3 linked regions of the Homo sapiens genome follow. The protein of the gene in region 1 binds, or shares a complex with, the protein of each later gene. Each region holds a gene or a part of one and is shown in the gene's direction. Other genes may lie near its edges.

The links. Proteins that work in one complex are often made in the same cells at the same time.
Region 2: THOC3 (region 1) and THOC5 share a complex: the UniProt entries of both Homo sapiens proteins name them as parts of the transcription/export (TREX) complex.
Region 3: THOC3 (region 1) and THOC7 share a complex: the UniProt entries of both Homo sapiens proteins name them as parts of the transcription/export (TREX) complex.

The regions. Positions count from the first base shown.
Region 1 is NC_000005.10:175,959,031-175,965,315, reverse strand, and holds the end of THOC3 (THO complex subunit 3), read left to right. Parts: intron 1-160; coding exon 161-365; intron 366-3,881; coding exon 3,882-4,043; intron 4,044-4,164; coding exon 4,165-4,265; coding exon of another isoform or gene 4,266-4,357; exon of another isoform or gene 4,358-5,126; intron 5,127-5,183; coding exon 5,184-5,347; 3' UTR 5,348-5,785; downstream 5,786-6,285. UniProt on the Homo sapiens protein: Component of the THO subcomplex of the TREX complex which is thought to couple mRNA transcription, processing and nuclear export, and which specifically associates with spliced mRNA and not with unspliced pre-mRNA.
Region 2 is NC_000022.11:29,505,356-29,508,791, reverse strand, and holds the end of THOC5 (THO complex subunit 5), read left to right. Parts: intron 1-271; coding exon 272-335; 3' UTR 336-2,913; downstream 2,914-3,436. UniProt on the Homo sapiens protein: Component of the THO subcomplex of the TREX complex which is thought to couple mRNA transcription, processing and nuclear export, and which specifically associates with spliced mRNA and not with unspliced pre-mRNA.
Region 3 is NC_000003.12:63,833,347-63,839,839, reverse strand, and holds the end of THOC7 (THO complex subunit 7), read left to right. Parts: intron 1-66; coding exon 67-184; intron 185-1,340; coding exon 1,341-1,468; intron 1,469-1,777; coding exon 1,778-1,864; intron 1,865-3,481; coding exon 3,482-3,539; intron 3,540-4,449; coding exon 4,450-4,516; intron 4,517-4,616; coding exon 4,617-4,686; intron 4,687-5,640; coding exon 5,641-5,708; 3' UTR 5,709-5,970; downstream 5,971-6,493. UniProt on the Homo sapiens protein: Component of the THO subcomplex of the TREX complex which is thought to couple mRNA transcription, processing and nuclear export, and which specifically associates with spliced mRNA and not with unspliced pre-mRNA.

The DNA.
Region 1 (6,285 bases):
ACTTATTGTTGAATCATAAGTGGTAGCTCCCTTCCATTGTCTAGGACTTTAATGAGTAAGCCCGGAAGAAAGCTCTGGTCTTCTTTCTAGGATAGTGCAATAAACTTGTGGAAGATTATGAGCAAACAGATTATCTTGCTGATTATGTCTGGGTTCCCAGGGGAGAACATTAATATCTGCTGGAGTCCTGATGGGCAGACCATTGCTGTAGGCAACAAGGATGATGTGGTGACCTTTATTGATGCCAAGACACACCGTTCCAAAGCAGAAGAGCAGTTCAAGTTCGAGGTCAACGAAATCTCCTGGAACAATGACAATAATATGTTCTTCCTGACAAATGGCAATGGTTGTATCAACATCCTCAGGTGAGGGGGTCTAGCTTAGGGGACTGTCATGTCTTTGTGCTGGGTGCTGTGTCAGATATGGAGATGAATTAGATGTGAGCCTATCCTGAAGGAGCTTAAAACACAAATAGTAAGAGAGAATCCTAACCTGTCTTAAGTACATTTGAGCTGTATATTTTATATACTTTATATTTTACTGAGTCCTTACAGAAATTCTAGGGGTTGATGATTTGCTTCTCATTTGACAGATGAGGATCTGAGGGTGAGAGGTTACATCAGTAGTCAGCTAGTGTGTGCTAGAACTGGATGCACCTTGAATTATGGCTAATTCGTACTCCCTTTTTTTTTGTTTTTCGAGACAGAGTTTTGCTCTTGTTGCCCAGGCTGCAGTGCAATGGTGTGATCTTGGCTCACCGCAACCTCTGCCTCCGAGGTTAAGCGATTCTCCTGCCTCAGCCTCCCAAGTAGCTGGGATTAGAGGCATGTGCCACCACACCTGGCTAATTTTGTATTTTTTGTAGTTTAGGGTTTCTCCATGTTGGTCAGGCTGGTCTCCAACTCCCGACCTCAGGTGATTAGCCCGACCTCTGGCTAATTCGTACTCTTAAAGTTTCAACTGAAATATCACTTTGCCTTCAGGGAAGCTCCCCCGCTACCCCAAGGTTAGAGGTAGGTTAGAGGCGTATTTTATATACTTTCTGTAGGAAGCACTTTTCTTTCTATATTGTAATTGCATGTTTATTTGCCTGTGTCTCCTGTTAGACTGTGAATTCCTTGATGGTAGGGATGGTGTTTGCCTTGTTTAGTGTTGAGTCCCTAATGTCTAGTCCTGTACCTGCTCCACGTAGTAGGATCTTAGTAAATATTTGTTCTGTAAATGAATGAAACTGTGGAGCTGAAATTCAGGTCTGTTCAATTCTAGCCTTCCACTATCCCAGGTGAACAATGCAAGACCAAGTGAGATAGGTTCTGTGAGTGGGAGGCCAGGAGTTTGCTGTGAAATTCCACGGAAAGAACAGACATACTATATGGGGGGTTGAAGGAGGGAGCTTGTGAGCTTGATCTTGAAAGATGAGCAGAATTTTAAGAATAAGCAAAAGGGAACCACATAACTGACAAAGCAGGTGTGAGTGAGCATGACTTACTTGGAGAGTGGTTAGGTCAGGGTTGTTGGGGGAGTGGTGGCAGATAAGGGAAATAAGAGAGGGCATGATAATGGGAAGATGAAGTCTAATTTGGGACCAGATTATAAAAGGCCTTTATTTTATGCTTAGTATCTTGGGTTTTATTTTGTAGGCAATGGGGATTCTATAACTTTTTAAGAAAAATCTTTTTATTATAAAACACAGATATTGAAAACCACATAAAATAAATGTATAGCTTAATGAACTCTTATAGGCTTAACTCTTGTGCAACCCCGCCCAAGTTGAGAAGTAGTTCTTTCCAGCCATCCCAGAAGTCCATCCAGGTGATTTGTCCTAATTACAACTTCCTTCCACAAAAGCAAACACTATCCTGACTTTTATAGTGTTTCTTCATAGTTTATCTACCACATGTGCAGCCCCTAGATACCCTAGTTTTGCTCATTAAAAAAAAAAAAAATTGATATGTCTTTTGTATCTCTTAAATTACTCAAAAGAAACTTCCGAAAACGTAGCTGTTGAAAAACCAGACTGTTAACCTGTGGAGATTCTCCCAGTTTGGCTTTTGCTGATTCCATATGCTGTTTATGTGTTGGACTGTTGTGTAAAGAGATGCTGCTTCTCATCTGCGATTTGGTTACCCAGTAGTGTAGTTCATGTAGGGAAGGCAGGATAAAATTTTGATTCTGTTTGTCAGATAATGATTTTGTTTCCTGCTACCTCCAAAGATGAGCAGTTAGGTGTTTTTTTTTTAAAGAATCATTACGGGCTGATGTTTTTAAACATAGTTGGTGTGTTTCCATCTCTTGTAATTGTTACGCCTGTTGAAGCTCAAATTATCCCATCTTTGGCCAATAAGAACCTCTTCAAGTTGGTTCCTGAGACCTTTTTTGACATAATCCCATCGTCTTCTGTTTTTTTGCTCTCTGGTTTGATAAGATGTTCCAAGTTCATCTTGTGCATTTCTTGCCCCAGACCTTTAATCAGAACATTCTCCAAGAAGCCTTAACATTCTGGCTGGGTGCGGTGGCTCACGCCTGTAATCCCAGCACTTTGGCACTTTGGGAGGCCGAGGCGAGTGGATCACTTGAGACCTGGCAATCATAGAGAAACCCTGTCTCTACTCAAAATACAAAAATTATCTGGGCGTGGTGACGCACGTGTATATTCCCAGCTGCTTGGCAGACTGAGGCAGGAGAATCGCTTGAACCCGGGAGGCGGAGGTTGTAGTAAGTTTAGATTGCACCACTGCACTCCAGCATTCTGGACGACTGAGTGAGATTCCACCTCAAAAAAAAAAAAAAAAAAGGAGCCTTACATTCTTTTACTGAGAAATGATACTGAAGTTAGGAATGTTCATTACTGCTGGGTTGGCCTAGGAATTACGTGTGTGTGTGTGTGTGTGTGTATATATATATATATTTAAAGATAAAATACCTTATGAATTCATGTTGATAACTTGCAATCAAAATTGAGGACTCCAGGGATTTTACTAAACCTCTTCTATATTACAAATATATTTCTTTCCTCCCAAATTGAGTATTCTGGTTCTCAAGGGCACAGGGGATCATAGAATTAGAATATCCGATGGTTACTTATTACCTATCTCCCATGGTAAACATATAGATGTCTCAGAACAACAATATTACTGCTGCTACCACCAATGTGATGACTTGAAACAAAAAATGTTTTTGGTTTTTGCATATACTCTTTCCATTCTTCCCCCATTAAAAAAATAGTACTATATGTTGTAAGCATGTGCAGATGTTACATATTATACCCTCTCTTTAAACCATGTATAGTTTTTGCAAGAAACTGTATATTCAGTGTTGAGCACCAGTCCTTATAAGTCTCTAGTCATTTTTTTAATTGAAGCTCATTCTCTAGTTAAGATTCCTCGGGAAGCGTTCATGGGAACATTATTCCTGGAGTTTTTATTACAACTTATTTACGTACTTCTAAAACTTACAGATTTTATAAAACGTTATTGTGCTTATTGTTTGTATCATTATATTTGAAATTCAGTTTTGCTGGATGTAAAAATCCTTGGCTCGTTTTCTCGCTTGTGTATCTTTCTTAAATATGGTACTCCATTTTCTTTTGGCATTAAGTGTTGCTGTCAGAAAGCCCAATAATCTAATTTTCTTTTTCTTTAAAGTCCACTAGTTTTGCTAGTCTCTGTCTCGATGTTGGTAACTTTGGTTCTGTAGTCTCAGGTATGTGTTGTGCTTTTTAAATAATGTAGTTCAAAATCTTTTTTTATTTCAGGAATGTTATCTTGAATGACAGTTCTTGGTGGTGGTCTATTATCTTTGCTTTTCTTCTTCATCATCTCCTATTATTGTTTCAGCACCACAGTCCTCTTCTGCAGTTTGATCGCTGTCTTTTTTCTCAGCTACCCAGAACTGAAGCCTGTGCAGTCCATCAACGCCCATCCTTCCAACTGCATCTGTATCAAGTTTGACCCCATGGGGAAGTACTTTGCCACAGGAAGTGCAGATGCTTTGGTCAGCCTCTGGGATGTGGATGAGTTAGTGTGTGTTCGGTGCTTTTCCAGGTAAGTGACTCTATCAGCACTTCCCTTGTTGGGTACATTAATTTTATTTCATCTTGAGTGACATTGTTCCCTCCTCTTACTTGGTAATTCTCTTGTCTCTTCTGTCCACTCTGTATCATAGGCTGGATTGGCCTGTAAGAACCCTCAGTTTCAGCCATGATGGGAAAATGCTGGCGTCAGCATCGGAAGATCATTTTATTGACATTGCTGAAGTGGAGACAGGTAACTTCATGAGAATCTACCGTCTTTCACCTTTGGCAGTCAGGACTTCTCTTGTGATCTCATCTCTGCATGTGACTACTTCACCAGCATGATCATGAATGAATTTGTCTCCTTTAGACAAGTATGTTTCTGTTTTGACTGTCACTGCCAGGTGGTGAGGAAGCAAAGAGTTAAGAAATAAACAGGCAGGTCTGAGGAAAGTGATTTAGAAAAATATTTTGATTTATTTAAACTTTAAACTACAGAGTAGAAGGAAGAAAAAAGCACCACTTGGGGTCCCACTCTCTAAATACCACCTGTTTTAAATGTTGTGATATATTTCTCTTTATCTTTTGCCTGTATATGAACTTGAAAAAATATTATTTAAAATTTGAGGAATTATAAAGTTTTTGCTTTAAAAACAACAGAAGCTGGAAATAGAAAAATGGGAGGAGAGTATTCATTTTGCAAAAGAATTTCCTCAGATTTGTTTTTTAATGTTGCTTTATTGTTTTTGGAAATCTTTGACACTCTTCGTAAAAAGATTAAAACTGTATAGAAAACTTCGAAGAGGAAAGTAAAGAACTTGAAATTCCACTATGTAAAGAATGCATGCCCCTGTTAGTCACGTTGTGGTGAACATTGTCCAGCATCCAGCCATGCAGATCCTTCATGTAACTGCATGTCCCTGTGACGCGGAGACACTTTCCTGCTCAGTGACCTGCTCTTGAGTTAACCCACCTGTGCTCAGAACCGGCTCTGTCCTCCACTGGCTTGTGGGCTCTCTGTGCCTGGGGGTTCTCTGTAAAATGAGGTAATAGTTGTATCTATCTCATGGGATTAGTAGGTGGATTAAACCAGTTAATACTGGTAAGTACTTAATGAATGTGTCCTTCGTTTTGAACGTATTGATTGGTTTCTCTCTATTGTTTTCTGTAGGGGACAAACTATGGGAGGTACAGTGTGAGTCTCCGACCTTCACAGTGGCGTGGCACCCCAAAAGGCCTCTGCTGGCATTTGCCTGTGATGACAAAGACGGCAAATATGACAGCAGCCGGGAAGCCGGAACTGTGAAGCTGTTTGGGCTTCCTAATGATTCTTGAGAGGAGGTTGTAGGGAGAGGAGGCCCCGGCAGAGGTCTTCCTTCATGTGGTTAGTTTGGTCTGTTCTCTCGGAGTTGGTGGGCACCCTAAATATTTGTAAGTTGGTATAAATTGTAAACGTCTCTGGTCAGGCTGCGCATTTCATTCTTTTGCTTTGTCTGTGTATTAGCTCTTTCCATTCTTTGCCCCCAGCATGAGTTAACTCGCGTGGACTCTGCAGTGCGAGTAGTGACCCCACCATACCTTGTCCTCTGGACCTCCTGTCTTCTCTGCTTCTGGGTGCATGGTAGACTTTGTGGCATTTGATACAACTTGGACAATACCTAGTTTGGAGGGAGGGGAATGGAAGGGCATGGAAGTTTTTTTAAATAATTAAAAATATATATATATAATTTTGAGAATTGAGCATTTAATAAACTGACTTTTGTTATTATGGAACTTCTAAGACTTTTAAAATTATTATGTCCTTGAGTTGCAGTTTTGTATTTTTTTTTTTTTTAATTTCAGAAAGAGAATTTAAATGTTATAATTCTGTCATTTAATGTCCCAACCAAGAAGCCTCTGAAATATAGGGACAAAGCTAATTGAATGACCAAACTAAAATTTTGGCTCTGAGCTTCCTGGTGGCAAAGTGAAGAGGGGAGTAAGTCATTTAGCTTTCTTATTGAAAAGAAAAACACTTATTGGTTCCTCATGGAAAGCAAAGCTTTATTAGTTCTTCCCTCTAAAAAAAAGGGCTTATGTTTGGAGGGTTGTTACCTAAGAGCAGTGGTTTTTCATTATATTGTAATTTTGTTTGGTGTTAAAGCAAATATTGAGGCATATAGAAATAGTGTTGGTAGAAAATTTTGGAAAAAGATAAGCAAAAAGAAAAATTACATTCCTAGCACCAAGAGGTAACTGCTATTAGAATTTTGATGTATATCCTTCCAGAAGTT
Region 2 (3,436 bases), on another chromosome or scaffold:
TAAAAAGTGAGGGTGCCTAAAGCTATGTCCCCGAAGTGCCACTGTCAGTGAGGGCCTTTCCAAGTTTGTGTTCACTCATTTGCAAGCACAAAAAGACATTTTTACAAAAATAGTATCGCACCTTATATGTTGTTCTGCCGTATGCTTTTCTCAACAACATTCTGTGTCATGTAACTCTGCCTCTTCTTTTTCCCTTGTGTGAATGAACCATAATTTATTTTATCAGCCTAGAAGGTGTGTTATTAACAACTCCGTTCTCCTATTTCTCTAGGGGTCCTAGCAGGATGAAGCCATTTAAATACAACCATCCTCAGGGATTCTTCAGCCATCGCTGATCTCCCGCGCAGACCGTTGTTTCCCCCAAGGCCTCACCCTGAGCACTGGGCTTCTGCTTTCTGCTCTGGCCCACATGTGACTCTTGATATTCTCCAAAGACACCAGCCAATTAAAAAGCGTCACCTGACCAGTGGCCTTTGTCTGTGGTTCCTGGCAAGGTGGCTTTGCAGTCTGGAAGGGCAGGTGGGAGCTGTGACACAGTGTGAAAAAGCATTTGTAGAGAGACTTTTTCTCAGCAGCCAATAAAAGCAGAGTGGAAAAAGATTCCAATTCTGCAGAGAGATGCTCACCTCTTGTCTACGCACACCCTATTTGTGCTTTGCGGGGTGAGGTCCTCATGATCTTGTATTTATTATCCCAAGTTCCTGCTGTTAAGAGGTGGTAGGAGAAGCCAAAGGCAGCAGAGCACAAAAAGCAAAACTCTTCCCTCCCCACCCGCTCTTCCCATTAGTCCTGTCAGGGTTGCCGATGGACAAATTGTCTCTGATCGTTGGATGTTATAAATGTCTGACAGTGCAGTGCAAACAGAAGACAAACTCAGTTGATCCTTGAACAACTCAGGGGTTAGGGGCACCAACACCCCCTGCCCTGCACAGTTGAAAAATCCGTGTATAACTTTTGACTCCCTAAAAACTTAACTAATAGCCTGCTGTTGACCAGTAGTATGCTATTAGTAGTTACTTACTGCTAACATAGTCAGTACATATTTTCAGTATATATTTTGTATCTTATACACTGTATTCTTACAATACAGTAAACTAGAGAAAAGAAAATGTTATAAGGAAAGTCACAAGGGGGCCTGAGTGCAGTGGCTCACGTCTGTAATCCCAGCACTTTGGGAGGCCAAGGCGGGTGGATCACTTGAGGTCAGGAGTTTGAGACCAGCCTGGCCGACATGGTGAAACCCTGTCTCTACTAAAAACATGGAAATTAGCCAAGCGTGGTGGCGCATGCCTGTAGTCCCAGTTACTCAGGAGGCTGAGGCAGAATTACTTGAACCCATGAGGCAGAGGTTGCAGTAAGCCAAGATCACGCTCCTGCGCTCCGGCTTGGGCGAGAGTGAGACTCCGTCTCAAAAATAAATAAATAAGAAAGCCATAAGGAAGAAAATATATATCTACTATTAAGTAGAAGTGGATCACCATAAAGGTCTTCACATACTGTCTCAGGGTTGAATAGTCTAAGGAAGAGGAGGGGTTGGTCTTGGTGTCTCAGGGATGGCAGAGGCAGAAAAAGTGGGGGAGGTGGAGGGGGAGGCAGGCACCACTGTTATTTTTATTGAACAAAATCTGTGCAGGGACTCATGACTGTAATCCTAGTACTTTGGAAAGCTAAGGCGGGAGGATCCCTTGAGGCCAGGAGTTCAGGTCCAGCCTGGGCAACGTAGTGAGAGACCCTGTATCTACAAAAAATTTAAAAATCAGCCAGGTGTGGTGGTATGCACCAATAGTCCCAGTTACTCAGAAGGCTGAGGTGGGCGGATGACTGGAGTCCAGGAGTTCAAGGTAGCAGTGAGCTATTCATCGTGCCTGTACTGTACTCCAGCCTGGGAAACAATGCGAGTCCCTATCTCTAAAAAATTTTAAAAAAAGAAATCTGCATATAATAGACCCACAGAGTCCAAACTATTGTTCAGAGATCAACTGTACTTCACAGAGAGTAATTCTAAGTCTTACAGGATTTCATGGAGATGGCGAGAGTGGTGTTGGAGAATCAATCACATACAGAGATACAGGACAGTGAGACCAGGTAACATTTGAGGAGAATATTTTTTTTTTATTGAGACAGGGTCTTGCTCTGTTGTCCAGGCTGGAGTGCAGTGGCACGAACACAGCTCACTGCCGCCTCAACCTCTCCTGGGTTCAAGTGATCCTCCTGCCTCAGCCTCCCAAGTAGCTGGGACCACAGGTGTGTGCCACCATTTCTGGCTAATTTTTAAATTTTTTGTAGAGGCGGGATCCCACTATTTTTCCCAGGCTGGTCTCAAACTCCTGGGCTCAAATGATCCTCCCACCTCGGCCTCCCAAAGTGCTAGGATTATAGGCATGAGCCACCACACCCGGCCTGAGTAGAGTCTTTAAGGTAATGACAAAAGTGCCTCAAAATATAATTATTTGATTAAGAGAAGTCTTGGGAAGATAGGTAACAACCTTTAAAATGTTCATAAAATTACATCCTTTGTAATACTCCTGCAAGTCAAAGTAAAGGATGGCATAGACTATTCTTGGACAGTTTTGTCAAAAAGTGTATCTTGACCCCACCATCAGTACTCCATTCTTCATTTTAAAAAATAAGATGGGCTGGGCACAGTGGCTTACGCCTTTAATATCAGTACTTTGGGAGGCTGGTGGGCGGATCACCTGAGATCAGGAGTTCAAGACCAGCCTGGCCAACATGGTGAAACCCCGTCTCTACTAAAAATACAAAAATTAGCTGGGCATGGTGGTGCGCGCCTGTAATCCCAGCCACTCGGGAGGCTGAGGCAGGAGAATTGCTTGAATCCCCGAGGCGGAGGTTGCACTGAGCCGAGATGGTGCCACTGCACCATCTGGACAACAGAGCAAGACTCCGTCTTGGAAAAAAAAAAAAAGATGTAGAAATGTAAAAATATTTGAGAATTATTACATAGTTGCAGATATAGTTTGCTAACTCCAAGAGGAAACACATTTTATTTTTTGTGATTGTCCTGATGAAACTTTATCCCCCCACAACATGCTGTTAAGCTTGGTTCCCATCATAAGCATATTCCCCCTAAGTGGACTTTTACTGATTTTCCATGGATAATGCAGACCTCCAGTATAAAAGCTATTCCTCCAGGTCTCTCTGCCGACCACTGAGTATCCCAGGGATAAGGATTTTAAGAGTAAGAGCTAAGTAATAAATTCCTGCCCCTAGCAGGGCCGTTCATTTTACGGATGAAAACCTGATCCTTGCTGGGCGTGGTGGCTCATGCCTATAATCCAAGCCATTCAGAAGGCTGAGGCAGGAGGATTGCTTGAGCCCAGGAGTTCAAGACCAGCCTGTGTAATATAGTGAGTCCCCATTCAGAAAAAGAAAAGAAACCTGAGCCTAGCAAGGAGAAGAGAATGGTACCTTTGGT
Region 3 (6,493 bases), on another chromosome or scaffold:
ATACTGGTTATTTGTACTTGAAAGTTACCAAGAGCCAGATGGTAACATTGCCCTTCTTTCCTGCAGACGAAGTTATACGGAAGCGTCTCCTCATTGATGGAGATGGTGCTGGAGATGATCGGAGAATTAATCTGCTAGTGAAGAGTTTCATTAAATGGTGCAACTCTGGGTCCCAGGAAGAGGGGTATTTCATTTTCACTGTTGTTTCCATACCAGTGTCCTAATGTGATTTTAGGCCCTATATTAAGGTCCTGTGAGTAGATCAAATTTTCACTCACCTTAAATGTACAGTGGAGTCAACTCTTAATTAACCAAGAGTAGATTTTCTTGGCCTTTTCTTCTCTTCAAAGGCCTCTCATATGTTTATTAAAACATGGAGAAGGCAGATTGGTAAGGAGAAATGAAGATTAAATTCAGACTCATTAGTTTGGTTACTTTTAGGACATAAGTGTTTAGTAAGATAAAATATCTAAATGGAATTTTCTCCTTTGCTAATAAAAGGCTGCTGCTATGTATGTATATATTAAGTTGGTGCAAAATTAATCGTGATTTCTGCCATTAACTTTAATGGCAGAAATGGCAGAAACCACGATTACTTTTGTACCAACCTGATACACACGCACACACGTATATCTAATCTTTTTTTTTGTGAGACAGAGTCTCATTCTGTTGTTCAGGCTGGAGTGCAATGGCACAATCTTGGCTCACTGCAACCTCCGCCCCCCAGGTTCAAGCAGTACTCGTGCCTCAACCTCCTGAGTAGCTGGGATTATAGGCATGCAACACCATGACTGACTAATTTTTGTATTTTAGTAGAGATGGGGTTTCACCATGTTGGCCAGGCTGGTGTCAAACTTCTAGCATTAAGTGATCTGCCCACCTTGGCTTCCCAAAATTCCAGAATTACAGGCATGAGCTACCACGCCTAACTATATTTATTTATTTTTTAACATAGCAAACTTTTTCTCATTTGAATTTGCTTTCCATATAAATAATTTTATAGAGTGAAAAAATTGTGGGAACAGAATTGTGAAGTTAAAAAAACATCTTAAAGTATTTCTAAAGTCTTTTAAACAAAATTCAAATAATTGTTTGAATAAAATGTGCATTGATAAGAACAACAATCCCACCTTTGCATTTGTAACTAAAGTAGTTAAATTCAAGAATACTACATTTGATAAAAAGAAAACTTAAGGGACAGATATTCTAAATTTTAAATAAGCAAATGATTCTCTCAGAACTTGCTATAATTTAATTAGCAAATATTTGTCTGCATTATAACAGTTCACTTTTGTCAGTCCACAAATATCTTTATTTTGGTTTTCTTTCTTTTTCATTAGATATAGCCAGTACCAACGTATGCTGAGCACGCTGTCTCAATGTGAATTTTCAATGGGCAAAACTTTACTAGTATATGATATGAATCTCAGAGAAATGGAAAATTATGAAAAAATTTACAAGGAAATAGGTAAAGAATCTTAATGTTTCTATCTGTAATTTTATTTTTTATGGTCTAAAGGAAACAATACCTGCTAACAATTTTCTTTGGTGGTAAAAGAATAATAACAATTACTGTATTAATGGAAAGAATACAGTAAATGTTAGCTATAAAAAATGTGTATTCTAAGATGATATAGTACTTTGGGTTACAGCTATTTTTTAAAAATACTAGTGTCTATTTTGTTACCAATAGAGGTTAATTTATAAATGCGTTTTAAAATTAAAAATGGATTATTGATTTTGTTACAACTATCTTTTAAAAAACCTTCTCATATAGAATGTAGCATAGCTGGAGCACATGAAAAAATTGCTGAGTGCAAAAAGCAAATTCTTCAAGCAAAACGAATACGAAAAAATCGCCAAGGTAAGGGTTTTGAGGGATTTAATGTGCAAATACATTATTACTGACTACAGTTTTCATGCAGTTTTTAATGTTGTGAGGTAAAATCTGCAGCCTGAATCAACCTGGATTAAAAAAAATCCAAATTTTAATTCCTTAAAACTATATTATTCTTTAAAATAGAGAAGGAAGTCTGTGTTGAGAAGAATGTTTTTGCTGGATTACATTGATTATCCAAGTATTTCTTTTCTGTTTTTCTCTTTTTTTTTCTTATCCCAGTATTTCTTAAGTATTAAATTTTTACCATCTTGGACCCTTTTGCCTAAATAATGTTATGGTTAATCAGCAGAGGCAATTTACATAAATATACTAGATTTATGGTTTGGGTTTTTTGTTTGTTTGTTTAATAGAGCTACTTTCCAAAAAATGAAATGGAAAAGAATTTAAACTCTGAGTTTTCATTAAGTACAAAGCAAGCAAACATTTCTAGACTGCCTAGAATATCTAATAAGAAGGTTAAAGTTGAGTTTTGTTATAATCTCTTGTTTTTAAGTTAGAGTATACCCTTATGTAGTTCCTAAATACTATTTCAAGATAATTTTTAATGTTAGAGGCACTGCTCTTCTTATAATGTAAATTGAAGAAAAGTAAAAATAAAAAATATAATGTGTAATCACAACTGTTACATTGATATGAAAAACTAGAAGAAAATAGAAAATGTTAATGGTTATTTTGAAGTTGTGGGTTTTTATGGCTTAGGTTCTTTTCTCTGTTTTTGTGTTGTTTTGTTTTGTTTTACATAGGGCATGTATTATTTTGTAATTCAAAAAATTTGTATCCAAAAGAATCATACTTTGAATTAATATGCTCAGTTCTAAAACAATGAATTTTCACTTTTTAATGAACTAATTAAGATGAAGCTTAATTTCCTCTTTTTACAAGTTTTTTTTTTCAGTTTAAAATGTGTATGGTGAAGTTTTGGTGCCTTATTTACAGTAACATATACCAACTTAGTATCAGTTCTAAAGTCATCTAAAAATATTTTGCAGTGTTTTCGTTGGTTAATGAGGCTTTTAAGTAAATCCTGCCACTCATCACTTCATAAGAAAGCTTAACAGGAGTTACATGACTTATCTTGGAGGTCTCAGTGGAGCAGAAAATAGAACCTGAATTTTAAGTTATTTGCAAGTTTCTGAAATCTTAACTTTTGGAATGAGTGAGAAGTGTAATTTGCTGTTGACTAACAACTCAGATTAATGGTAGGATATATTCACTGATTGTATTTTATTTTATTTTACTTTTTGGACAACTAGTGAGTAAGATCCTTCTCAGAATCAGTCTATTTGATAATCAATAATAACTTAAATTTGCTTATGCTTATGCTGACCTCTTACGTTCTGTCCAGGACATATAAATGGAAAAAAAGTGGGAGCTAAAACCCCTGTTTGGAACACTTTTGATGTTATGTATCGTTATAATTATAACTCAGTTAACTAAAACTGGCAATACTCATCTTTCAGTGATTTCATTTCTTGATGTACTAGGAAAGTGATTAGGAGAGGTTTGTGATATTACACATTTTGTTTTGATAATTCACATTCAAAAAATCCTTAGTTTGATAAATATTTTTATGTCTTACAGAATATGATGCTTTGGCAAAAGTGATTCAGCACCATCCAGACAGGCATGAGACATTAAAGTAAGTGTAGAGCTTTACTTTGAAAGGAACTAACCTTTATACATAAATGCTCGAAAACTACCGTAGGCATTTCATTTTTGCAGAAATAAATATGTTTCAAAAGGAGGGGTCAGATATTCAATATTATATTTTCCCATACTTCTCTGTTAGATTTTATTTTCCTCTAACCTTACCAGCTATATGTCTAAAATAAATGCATATAATATGCATCAATATCACAATGGATAAATAGAATATGGTCTTCATATATTAAAATATTGAATTTCAGTTAAAAAGAATAAACTAGTTATGCCCTTTTAAAACACAGCTCTCAAAACATAATCAGTGAAAAGACACATAATAAACTTTAAATTATATTTAAATTCCTGAAACACATACAGAATAATAACCATTTATAAAAGTTAGAACCCCCTTTCAAATATTATATACCAATACTGTGTATTATTCAGGGATACAAGTATATGCATAAAAAAGAATAAGAATGATATAGTAGTTGCCTGAGTGGGAGGTAGAGGAGATAAAAAGGCCCAGGATAGAGGACTAGGCGTAAGATTCAAAGGGTATTTCGAGTTAATTGGCAATGTTTTATTTCTTTTACCAAAATAAAAAACCCTCGAAGTTAAACTTCACAATATGTATCATTTCTTGGGTCTTGTTATTCTGTTATCTGTATTTTTCTGTACTTTAAAAATGGATCCAAAAATGTAATTTTAATGAAAGTGAGTCCATATTTAGAAGTTAAGAAGAAATCATCCTCAGCTTTAAAAGTTTCACCATAATGGAGTGTTATAACTCCTTATAAGCCCTTTTTTTATTTTAAAAATCCTATCTAGTAACTTAAAAGTTAGGCATTAATTGTAAACTCTTCTCCCCCATTCAGCAAAATGTAACACTGTTTTATTATTTCCAGGGAACTAGAGGCTCTGGGAAAAGAATTAGAGCATCTTTCACACATTAAAGAAAGTGTTGAAGATAAGGTATTCGCATATATATTTAGCCTTCATGATCTGTCTATCTGTCTGTCTATATATCTATATATACAGGTCATTTGTATAAATTTTTTTCTTGTTAACACAGCTGGAATTGAGACGGAAACAGTTTCATGTTCTTCTTAGTACCATCCATGAACTTCAGCAAACATTGGAAAGTAAGTAGAAATAGTCTCAAAGTAAATGCTTATGAAGATTTTTTAAATGACCCAGGGATGTACCTTTTGAAATATACATCTTGGAGAGACAGTATACCTTCAATTTCTGAACAGTGTAGCTGGATGACGTTAGAAGGTACTCATGTTCAACTTTCTTGAATACATGTAGAAAAGTCTTAATTTGTAGTAATATAGGATTTAAACATATACATAGTGGTTTAAATTAAGAAAAATTCAAGGATGATAGATTTGGAATCTTTCTTGGTTCACTGTAGTTGACTACTATAATATAACAACTCAGGACCCAGGCAGGCAATAATAAGAAATCAGTACATACGAACATTTGCATACCCACTGAGTAGTGGGTGCTTTGGGGAACTGGAGACTTGCTCTTTATATTCACTATAGGCAAGTGGAAATTTTTGTGTTACCTGATCTTCTGATTGTTTTAAAGAATAGCCTAAGACCCATTTTTTCTTTTCTTTTTTTTTTTTTTAAGACAGTCTTGCTCTGTCACCCAGGCTGGAGTGCAGTGGCACAATCTTGGCTCACTGCAATCCTCACCTTGCAGGCTCAAGTGATTCTCCTGCCTCAGCCTCCCTAGTAGCTGGAATTACAGGTGCATGCCACCACACCCAGCTAATTTTAGTATTTTTAGTAGAGACGGGGTTTTACCATGTAGGCCAGGCTGGTCTTGAATTCCTGACCTCAGGTGATCCACCTGCCTTGGCCTCCCAAAGTGCTGGGATTATAGGCATGAGCCACCAGACCCTGCCTGGATTTTTTTTTTTTTAAGTGAAGTCTATCACATAAATTTTAAAGTTTGATTCAACTAGTAGCCATCTTAGCTTTAATTGTATTGGCTAATAAAGGATAAACATGTTTTCATGTGTTCATCGAATATAAAATATAGGCAAACTTGACTAAGGTTTTATGTTTCCTTCTCAATTACAGATGATGAAAAACTCTCAGAGGTAGAAGAAGCTCAGGAAGCAAGCATGGAAACAGATCCTAAGCCATAGACAGGCTAATTGCCCACCACTCCCAGGAATATTGAAATAGCTACATGACCATAATGTGTTTAAAATGTGGTATGCTCTTGAGATATTTAAAGTTTTGGCAGTAAAATACTCTGTTTTTAAGTATGAATGTATTTCATTCATATTTCCTCTCACAAAGGAAAATGACTTCAGTATAGATTTGTTTTTATTAAAATGCATTTTTTATTCTTAAGTGGTAGGAAGCAACATCCAAAAATGCTTAATAAAATGCTTTTAAGCTGCATATGTTTGTGCTCATTAATATTCTAGGTAGTTTTTAACTGGTAACATTGATTGGCTTACAAAATAAGTTGAAAATTGTTAGAAGTTGGCATTTCTAGGATGTACATGGGAAAATGAGCCAATTTCTGGAAATGGTTACACTTCTGAAAACGGAGTCTATGAAGAGGCTTTAGGAGGACCATGAACCTGTGAAATTACATGCAAAATGTTAGTGGTGTATGCTTATTGTGGAGAGAGGTTCCAGGCTGTTAAAATTCGCTGGTATGGGACGTTAATTATAAGATGCAAAGTAAAATAGTGCACATTACTTTATATATCTCTCCTTAATATGAGAGGAATATGGTTCTCAAATGTTTTGTTGATCTGTTTTCTCTACTGTTTTGTTCTTTAGGAATCATTTTCAATAGAAAAAGATGTATTGATAAAGTGAAGAGTGTTTGAAGTAAATAGTTTGTTAAGATTGTTTTGCGTAGGCCAGGCATGGTGGCTCACACCTTTAATCCCAGCACTTTGGAAGGCCGAGG